Linked DNA regions of Homo sapiens: region 1 is linked to region 2. A link means that fine-mapping ties the variant in region 2 to the expression of a gene that starts in the linked region. Tissue or cell type: whole blood. Region 2 holds a variant in brackets; the other region holds the start of a gene. All regions are shown on one strand. Distances are from middle to middle.

Region 1 (5,000 bases), 22 kb before region 2:
AGCCTGGGCGACAGAGCGAGACTCTGTCTCAAAAAAAAAAAAAAAAAAAATCATAAAACAATATCCTTACCTAGCACTATATTATTTCCTATTTTCTCCCCCTCTCTCTTTCTTTTTTTTTTTTGCAGGGGGAGATGGAGTTTCACTCTTGTCGCCCAGGCTGGAGTGCAATGGCGCCATCTCAGCTCACTGCAATCTCCGCCTCCCAGGTTCAAGGGATTCTCCTGCCTTAGCCTCCGAGTAGCTGGGATTATAGGCGCCCACCACCACGCCCGGCTAGTTTTTGTATTGTTAGTAGAGGCGGGGTTTCACCATGTTGGCCAGGCTGGTCTTGAACTCCTCACCTTAGGTGATCCACCCACCTCGGCCTCCCAAAGTGCTGGGATTACAGGCGTGAGCCACTGGGCCCGGCCTTTTTTTTCAGGCAGGGTCTGGAGTGCAGTGGTGCCATCACTGCTCACCGCGGCTTCGACATCCCAGGATCAATCAATCCTCCCATCTCGGCCTCCCGAATAGCTGGGCCTACAGGCATGCGCCCAGACCCTTGGCTAATTTTTTGAATTTATTGTACAGGCAGGGTTTCGCCATGTTGCCCAGGATGGTCTCCAACTCCTGGGCTCAAGCGATCGGCCTGCCTCGGCCTTCCAAAGTGCTGGGATTACAGGCGTGAGCCACCGCGCCCAGCCTATTTTCTCTTTTTAATGGCGCCAGTGACCCATTCACCTATTAAATTGATGTTACGACTCTTATATAGGCCGCTACTCAACGTTAAAAAAAATCATCTTTAACATACTATTTTAATACTAGACCTCAAATCTTAGCTAAGAAGTAGTTTGGAAGGACTGGGGAAGAGAAGGTTAAGAATGACTATTATGTACGGTAAATATGCTAAGAAGCTGATGAAATAACGATAGATTTACTTAGCTACAAAAAGGCCAAACTAGCATTAGACTTCACTTGTCAGCAGTTTTGTTTTTTTGAGGGGGGCGTGGGGGGGGGGGTCTCTGTCTGTCTGAAGGCACAAAAGAGGAAACAGCAGATAGGACTAACGAGGGCTGGAAATTGGTGAAGAACCACCACGGGAGTTGAGAGATGCAGATGAAGGAAACCATGGCTAGTAGCAAGAACTAGGGCAGCGGTAACTAACCTGCCTCAGCCAAGGAAGTGAGGCTGGTCCAGGATGCCAGGCTCAGAAAGGCAGGTACTGACTGAACACACTCCCCGCTTTGGTTCCTGTAGGACGGGTGAGATACCACACCTTGGCAACCACCAGTAAAGGCTCATAGTCTAGCCCTTGGGAGGCCCCGATTTTAGGGCTGTGCTCGGAGGCGACCTACGTTAGGGACTGGGAGAAGCAGGTACCCTGGGAATGAAGAATGGAGAGCAGCGCTTACTCCAAGAATCTGAGAGACGGGGGAGTCAAGCCGCTGCTAGGCCTTCTCTATGACTGCGGGGGTTCGAATACAGTGAGACCCGACAAAAGCGACCCCATTCTGGGTGATAGCACAGTCCTGGCAAAAAAGCAGGCATGGCAAAATACCCCAGGGTCGTCAGGTGGGACCTGGGCCCCGCTCTCAAAGCCCTTCTGGGTCCCCCTATTTCCCACCACCCCTCGCGCGGAGCCCTGAGGCAGTCAGCGTCCTCCAGGCTAGGGAAAGGCGTGGTTTTCCTTCCCCACGTCTCCCGTAAGGCACTGCTGCCAGCCCAGTACTACTGCGTCTTGGCAAGGCTGGAGGTGCTCCCACCTTCACTTTAATTAGCATCTTCTTTCCAGTTTGGGGCTGCACACGGATAAATTGCTGCTCCTACCGCTCCGGTCGCCGCTGCCGCCCTCCAGCACTCTTGCCTGCAAGGGCCACTTCTACTTCCGGGTCACTGTCTGGCTCCACCCCCCCCCCCCCCCCCACTGGGTTCCGGAAAGGCTCAGGGTTGCTCCCGCGTTTCGGTTCAGTGACGTCGTAAATTGGAATGAGGCATCCAGTTTAGCAACAGCAGAGATGACGACTCTGCGATTCTGAGAGTCCCTGGCGAGCCCGGGCTAGCGAAAAGTGGGGGCAGAACGAACTACATCTCCCATCGTGCCAGGAGGCGGTCCCGCCCGTTTCCCCCTGGGAGTTGTAGTCTAACCCCCTCGGATCCAACAGCAACCTCAGTGCGTGAACTCTGTTATCCAGAAGGCCTCGCCCTGCCGCCGCCGAAGCTGGAATTCGTCGGCTAGTAGTTCTCGCCGGCAACTAGAGGAACCTGTTGGCGTGGCCCAGAAGGCTTAGCGGGATTGCACGAGGTTAGTTGCTAAGCAAGGTGGTCTTTGGTCAACTGCCGCCTGGACCAAGGCAACAGGAAGTGAGTACCTCTATTCCGGAAACTAGTTATGAACCCTCCCCGCCCCCCGTCGCCAACATTCCTTCGTTCCCCTAAATCAGCCTCTTGCCCCATTGCTCTTTGCAGGGGTAGAAGAAGGAAGTGTAGCGGGGTAAGGAATGCACCGTCAGGGTCTCTCACAACCCTTTCCCAGCTCTCCTCCCCAACAAACAGTACCTGGGATGGAGCCCTAGGGTAATCGCAGCCACGGGATGGGTCGAGGTGACAGGCTTCAGGGACCACACTTCGGCCTTTGCCCGACCTTCCACAACTTAAGCGAAGAGAGGCCACCAGCCGTAACAGGGCGTTAAAGCCCAGGGGAAGATTGGTCCTTATGACTTCCTGCCTTCCAGCCCTCAGATTCATCGCTACCCCGAGGCTAAGCGCCATGCCTCATATTGACAACGATGTGAAACTGGACTTCAAGGATGTCCTTTTGAGGCCCAAACGCAGTACCCTTAAGTCTCGAAGTGAGGTGAGCAAGCTTCTCTACTTGCTGTTTCTTGACCCCACGCTCCCGGTGGGCCACAACCAAGAAAGATGCCTGTCCTTGTCCTAATATGGTACGTTTTTTGGATTAATGAAATGGTCAATTTCCTGTTCATATCTGCAGGTGGATCTCACAAGATCCTTTTCATTTCGGAACTCAAAGCAGACATACTCTGGGGTTCCCATCATTGCTGCCAATATGGATACTGTGGGCACCTTTGAGATGGCCAAGGTTCTCTGTAAGGTAGGGCTTTCCTCATGCCCCATCCCTATTGGTGTCCAGTTAGCCCAGCTGACTGCAGAGGTGTTTGCATCCCCACCCCCATGCCCAGTCAGTTCTCTGGCAGTTAGCAGTCAGGATGCTCTGATTTACGGTTTTTTCCACTACTGAAGCCCTTTATCTGATAAGTTCAAAAGGCCATCTGAATTAGTGAGATTCAAAGCTAAGTTCTGCTCCGATATTTCTGATATATGAACAGAATTTTCCCTTTTGTCCTGTTTAGCAGTTTGTACACCTTGCCAACTTTTCCCACCACCCAGGTCACCCCCTCACAGTCACATGCATCCCTTCAGTTATGCGATTGTCCACATTAAGCATTCACTGTTTTAGTCCAGAAACTACAGTTTAAGCATTCAAAAATCCTAACTAGAAGATCCTAGGAGAAGCAGCTTATTAATTTTCTTTAATAAGAACAATTCATTAATAAAAGAATACTTCTGCCATTCTTTTTTTAATCTTCCTCTTCTTTAAGTCCTAGGTTCCTGGGAGTTTCTGGGATGTGCCCCAAATGGGATGTGTTTTTCTTATATACAAGTTGTTCACTTTGAAATGGAAGATGCTGCTCCTGTCAGTACTATTACCTGCCTCTATACTTGTTGCTGAGAAGGTAGAGAGTTATCTGGGCACTTTGAGAACATATGCACTCTGCTGGTTGATCCATGTAGCCCTGGTTGATGAATTCTGCTATTGTTTGTGGCTCCATTAGTCTTAAGGACTTCATATCCTTTTTCTATTTTTGATTGCTGTGTCTTTGTGGAATGTCTTGTCATTTCTTTAAGGTTGATAGTTATGCAGTTTTATTTTTACTTTATTTTTATTGCCATTCAGTAACTGCTTAGGAATCTTTCTGTTGCCCACTGTCCATCTGCCCTGACCAGTAGAGTTCAGAATTGGTGACTCTGACTGCAGAGTTAACAGGCGTGCTGTAATACATGAACCTTTTTGGGGACTGTCTTGATGCTTTATGTGGAGCCTGGCTTTCAGTATTGCTGACGAGAGGTAAAGAAATCAGGTTTTAGAGATAAGAGCCAAGTCTTACTGTAATAAAAAGGTTGGATGCAAGCAAACATCTTTTTCTAAGTTTGGTATGTAATCTGATGTGCTCATCATGCCACACTCTGCCAGTATATCTCCAACATCTGCTGACTTCCTATCCTATGGTGACTTTTCTTTGCTTATCAGTATGTTGATGATAGAGTTGTTGAGAAAGCAGAATTCAATACCAGCTTTAGCTAGATATTGTTGATCTCTGAGTACGTATGTAGAGCACTTGTTGCTAGCTAATACATGACTTCCTTGGGTTTCTTGTTAGTTGCAAGATTTGTGCTGTTTCAGCCAACTGCTGTCTCTTGTCTGTTTGCATGTAGACATGTAAGGCACAAACACCAGCATACACAATGGCCTTTGAATGCCTTCCTCAAAGTATTGGGATATTGTTTGCAATCTGTTGAGCTAGAGAATATGAGTTTGATGAGTCATTATGTCCTTGAACTTTATTAAAATGGACTGAATGAAACAGATTTTTTAGCTTGATCCATGTCCCCAACTAGGAAATTTGTCCTTTTTTCCACTAGAGATGGAGACAGGGTAGGGTAGCCCCTTATCAGCTCTTATCAACCTTAAGGCATTACCTTTGGTGAGCATCCAGATCTACTGAATTACTGCTGGTAAATGAACGAGAACATAACCAAAAATAGTTTAGTACTAGGTTACCTTAGGAGGAGGGGCTGAGTCAGTGCAGAGAAACACAGGCTCCATCCAGCTTCTTCATGGTTCTTTCATGTCTGCTGCCTGTCCCACTGCACCAGCAGCTTGTCACCTTTTAAGTCAGAAGCAGTGAATGTGCTGGCAGATGAAATCCAACCCAGAT
Region 2 (5,000 bases):
CTGGGCAAGACTAGCAGAGCAGGCTACCCGGGGGGTTCAGGCTCTGTTCACTGAGCTGCCAGAGACCATGGTATGGTGACATGAGGAAAGCCCTACTTTGTGACACATCATAGCATTCCCAGGGGCCCAGGCTGGGGCAAAGATCAACATAGCTTCCTTCTCAGCTTTGGCCTAATGGCGAAGGTGGCAGCCACCACCAGGAGAGCTGCTGTGTGTGAGGGAGGGGTGGGCAAGTGGGCAGGGGGTCCTCTGCTTCCTCCCCTCAGTTTCCCCACCCCAAGCCATTGTTCTTTCTCAGGAACTCGCTGTCTGAAGATGAAGCCTGCCCCTGTCCCAGAAGGCTGATCTAGAAGGCCAGGCTCTGGCCTGCTCTGCTTTCCCTCCGTGCTTTTCCTAGGCGGGGACGGGGCAGCACGTGTAAGTCTGTATCAAAGATGACAGCCGCAGGCCCAGGAACACAGCATGTGTGTGCCCTCACTACACCCAGGGGCTTGCCCAGCCCAGGATCAGGCCCAGACGGGCTGGGTAAGGGCCTGAGGGATGGAGTTCTCTCCTCTGGAACTGCTACTTGGCCCTCATGGCACAAAACAAACAATGAGTTTGAGAGCCTGTGCATGGTATGCACCACAGTGGGAAGAGCAGAGTTTGCCCCCTACGAGCTGTGAGACCATATGAGATGTGACCGCCAGCTTCCCCATCTGTAAGTGGGGGTAATAATGGCAATAATAAAAATAACAACTACCAATGGAGCACTAACTTTGTGCCAAGCAGTGCACTAAACAACCCTAGGTCCAGGGGCTATTGCTATCCCTGCTTTACAGGTGAGAACACTGAGGCTTGAAGGAGAGAAGTCGCTTGCCCAAGGGCATATAGCCAGTAAGTGCTAGAGCTGAACCCGTATCATTAGGATTCCAAAACTTCGCTTGTGTGTGTGTGTCTCTGTGTGTGTGTGTGTGTCTGTGTGTGTGTGTGACAGAGAGAGAGAGAGACACACGGGGTCTCACTCTGTCGCCCAGGCTGGAGTGCAGTGGCACAAACATGGCTCACTTCAGCCTCAACCTCTCCAGGCTCAGGTGATCCTCCCACCTTAGACTCCCAAGTAGCTGGGACAACAGGCGCACAGCACCAAACCTGGTTAATTTTTTAAAAATTTTTTGTAGAAACAGGGTTTCATCATGTTGCCCAGGCTGGTCTCCAACTCCTGGGCTCAAGTGATCCACTCACCTTGGCCTGCCAAAGTGCTGGGATTACAGGTGTGAGCCACCACACCTGGCCTTCTAATGTACTTAAATTAGAGTTTTTGTGTCCAAAGGAGATAATATTCCTGAAAGGGCCTGGTCAATTCTTCAGTGCTGGGCAAATATTAGCAATGAGTTACTAATGATTCCTATGTGGGCCTTCTGCTCCCTAATTAGATAGTGAGGCAGGGCAAGGACATGGCATAGCACCAGGTGCCCAAGAGGTCTCCCTAAAGGCTGGTGGGACTGAGCTGGGCCGGGAGGTATTGCTAGCTGGCCCCAACCTGCTTGGTTGGGTCCTGACAGAACATACTTGTCCAGACAGAGAGGGAGCAAAGCTGGGAGCCAGGGCAGCCTGTGGGGAAGGCCAGAGTGGAAGCAGGGGTAGGGGGAGAGGCCAGACTCACCCAACGTTGAGGATCTTGGGCCTCTGTAACCCAGAGCCTTCGAGCCGGAAGACGACATTGGTGAGGGTGACGGGAAGGGGGTTCTTGAAGACAATCTGTACTTCACACTCCTGGCCAACCACTGCTGCTCCCAGTAACTGAGAGAAAAAGAGGCCCATCCCCCACGTCAGAGACCCTGGCCAAACACACGGGGACCGTACACTGCACCAGAGAGGGGAAGCTGCTTAGAAGCAAAACCTCCCCGAGTCCCACATTTATCCTCCTGAGAGAAGATTCCCCAGAAGTCAGAGAAGAAACTCCAACCTATTCCTCAATAAAGGCTGTCACAGAACCAGAGACATAAGATCCCATGCTACAGATGAGGAAACTGAGGCCCCAGAGCCGGTCCTTGACCTTCTCCTACAAAGGCTCATCAGGCCAGCCTGCTGCTGGCTTAGCGCCCACCTCTGATGTCCTTATCCCCTGGCCTTCACTCTCTGACCACCCCTCATGCCCCAGCAAACTGCATTCACCGTGAGGGAGAGGTCTGGGGTGCGCAGACGGAAGGTGTGCTGCTTGGCCAGCACCTGCCCGCTCTCCTTGACGTGGCCTGAGACATTGAGCAGCATGGCCCCCTGGTCCACAAGATGGGGCCGGTATTCCTTGTAGGCCACTGGCATGGTCACACGGTCCGCTGTGGAGAAGAGGCATGGCGTCACTGAGGCCTGCTTCCCTACATG[A/C]GGCTTCCCCCAGGGACTCCCCACTGCTCCTGGGGTCTCCATGTCCACAGCCCTGAGGTGCCCAGCCATCCAGGGGGCAGGGCTGGGTAAGGAGCACTTACAGGCCCCTGGTGCCAGCTCCACTTCCTTCTTGGTCTCCTTGAAGATGGTACCACTGACACCAGTATAGAAAGTGACTGAGAGGTAGAGGTGCAGTTTCACTGTGCGGCGGCTGCTGCTGTGATTGATCAGCATCACAGAGACCATCAGATCCTGCCCCATCACCGCGTCCTGTGCCTCCACCTGCATGGCCACATCCTCCGCTGAGCCCCGGTTGGCATACACATTGGGTTTGCTGCCGTGGGCTGCTGCTGTCTCTACTGCCTTCCGCTCTGCGTCTGAGCCTGGGGGTTGAGGGTCAAGGGTGAGGTTCCAATTCCCACGTGGGTGGCCAAGCACTTGGCAGGAACACTTGTTGTGGGGCCCAGAGCTGGCTGGGTTGGGGGAATGGTACCTTCTGGGTGCTTATAGAGGTAGGTGATGTCCTCCCGCATGTTGGAGCTGATGGCCTTTGTGACAATGAGTGTGCCGATGGCCTTCTCCTCCACATAAACAATCTTGAAGCTGCCATCATCCTGCCGCTGCCAGTACACCTTGTCACTATTCACCTGTGGGGGGTGGGGGTGAGCAGGAATGAGTGAGCCAGAGGGTCTGAGGGTGGCCTGACTCCCGGCCTCCTTCCCCTGATCCCAGGAGCTATGGGACAGGGCTTGGTCCCAAGGGTGGGAGCTTCCTGGCAGAGCCCAAGGGGAGACTTTCCAAGACGAGCCAGACGAGGCCAGAGTGCAGGGAAGAAGCTGGTCTGGGAGGCTCCTGGCAGAGCACTTTGGCAATATCAGTAATCCCTCACACTCAATGGCTGACTTTACGACTAGTGAAGCAGTTTCATACCCGTTATCTCTTCTGATCCCGAGTATAGGAAGCAAGGCAGCCTTGATTATCCCCTTTTACAGGTGAGGAAACTGACTTGTATAATGAGTGACTTGCCCCGGGTCGCAGAGCTGGTCAGTCAGCGGTGAAGTTGGGACCAGAGAACCCATGACTGAAGCCCAAGAAGGCACCTGGAGCCCAGCCCTCACCTCAGCAAAAATGAAAGGCGTGTCGTACTTCATGTAGACCAGGCCATTCTTGATGGACTCCACAGAGCAGGGGCCGCAGCAGAAGATGCCTAGAGAGTGAGGCGGGACAGAGGCAAGAGATCTGAGAAGGCGGAGAGGGCTCTTCAGACCCTGGGTAAGGTCCACACAGGGCCCCAGCCCCACCCACTCAGGCCCGGTCCCACTGCCTGGTGGCCTCTGGAACAAGGTCATCAGCCCTGACCCAAACACTTGGGGGTCAGTTGACAGCCAGTGCAACACAGGTATGGAAAACAAAGAGAGAGCGGCTCCATTTGGCTCTCAATCTGCTTTCCTCAGCCCAGGCTGCTCTGCTGGAGGATGGGGGCAGGGTACAGATGTGCGGACCAGCCTGCCTGATAACCAAGTCCCTGACATACTCTTTCATGGCTGGCTGACACTGGATGTCCACCATCTGTGACCCCCAGAGGACAGGACGCCCCATCCTTTATCATAACCAACCCAGAGTCCACAGTGGCCCTGCCTGCTGGCTGGGAGAGCGAGGACACCACCGCCACCACCATTCCAGAGAGATGCGGAACAACCCTCAGCTCTGCAGCCTGCTGCCCTTTCTACTGGGGGGAGCTGGTGGGAAATAGAGTCTGCCCTTATCATACTCAGGAGGCTGTCTAGAAGAGATAGGCTGACAGGAAGAGGCCTGGCAAGAGAGGACAGAGTGGTAAGTGAGTACCATCCAACCGGAAAGAATCTTAGACAAGACATAACACTACACACTCCTTTACAGACGGGGAAACAGCAAGGTGAAGTTCATGCCAGGATCTCACAAGACAGGTGGTGCAGGGAGAATGAAAGGAGCTCAGACTTTTTGAGTAGCTGCTACACTCCCGGCATGCTGCTGGTCCCTTCAGATACAGAATTTCTCATTTAATCCTCCCAATCACCATATATGGTATCTATTACCCCAAATTACATCCAAACCACCAAAGCCTAAAAGTTCGAGGTGCTTGCCCAAGAGCATACATCTGAGAAGTGATCAGGCTGGGATCAAGCCCCAGTCTGGCTGGCCCTGAGCCCCCTGCCTGATGTCCACCCCACCACTTCCCAGAGTTGGGGGCCAGAGCTCAGATCTGCCAGCGTCTGGGACAGGCTGTTTCAGCATCACAGGCATCACCGGGTTGCACAGCTCATGGGGCTGTGTTCACATATCTGAGTGAGAGGGAGGGCACTGGGAAGAGGCCAGGGGAGGAATGTAGGCTAGGGAGGACTCTCTGACCTGGGGTAAGGGAGAGGCTGGACAGAAGGTAGCTGGCAGGGCAGGCCTGGTGGCCTGGGGCTGGGGTATCACGGTAAGAAGGGGTGGGGGTTTGTTTGAGAACAGAGTGTATGGTAGTTCTAATTTCTGCAGAAACACATGTATGTGGACACAGAAAAGAGACCCGTTGGTTATATTAACAGTAATTATATATTAAGGCAGGGTCATAAGGGCTATTTTCTTCTTTGAACCTATCTGAGCCCTGATTT

What was found. PIP is the estimated chance that this variant, and not a neighbour inherited with it, causes the effect.
Region 1: it holds the start of GMPR2, and the variant in region 2 is fine-mapped to the expression of GMPR2 in whole blood (INTERVAL, PIP 0.94).

Annotation. Positions count from the first base shown.
Region 1 is chr14:24,230,505-24,235,504 of GRCh38, forward strand. GMPR2 (guanosine monophosphate reductase 2) reads left to right here and starts at 2,425. Exons shown (of 10, transcript NM_001002002.3): 1 at 2,425-2,473; 2 at 2,715-2,836; 3 at 2,975-3,094. The coding sequence starts at 2,750. It overlaps NEDD8-MDP1 (NEDD8-MDP1 readthrough), which reads right to left and starts at 1,863. Exons shown (of 7, transcript NM_001199823.3): 1 at 1,746-1,863. The coding sequence starts at 1,763. NEDD8 (NEDD8 ubiquitin like modifier) reads right to left here and starts at 1,863. Exons shown (of 4, transcript NM_006156.3): 1 at 1,746-1,863. The coding sequence starts at 1,763. RefSeq lists enhancers at 1,727-2,592, 1,759-2,053.
Region 2 is chr14:24,252,507-24,257,506 of GRCh38, forward strand. TGM1 (transglutaminase 1) reads right to left here. Exons shown (of 15, transcript NM_000359.3): 10 at 3,483-3,571; 11 at 2,858-3,011; 12 at 2,466-2,747; 13 at 2,158-2,318; 14 at 1,646-1,782. Among named protein-coding and RNA genes, the nearest start is that of TGM1, 8.2 kb to the right of the region's middle. The variant A/C (reference allele first, on the strand shown) is at 2,365.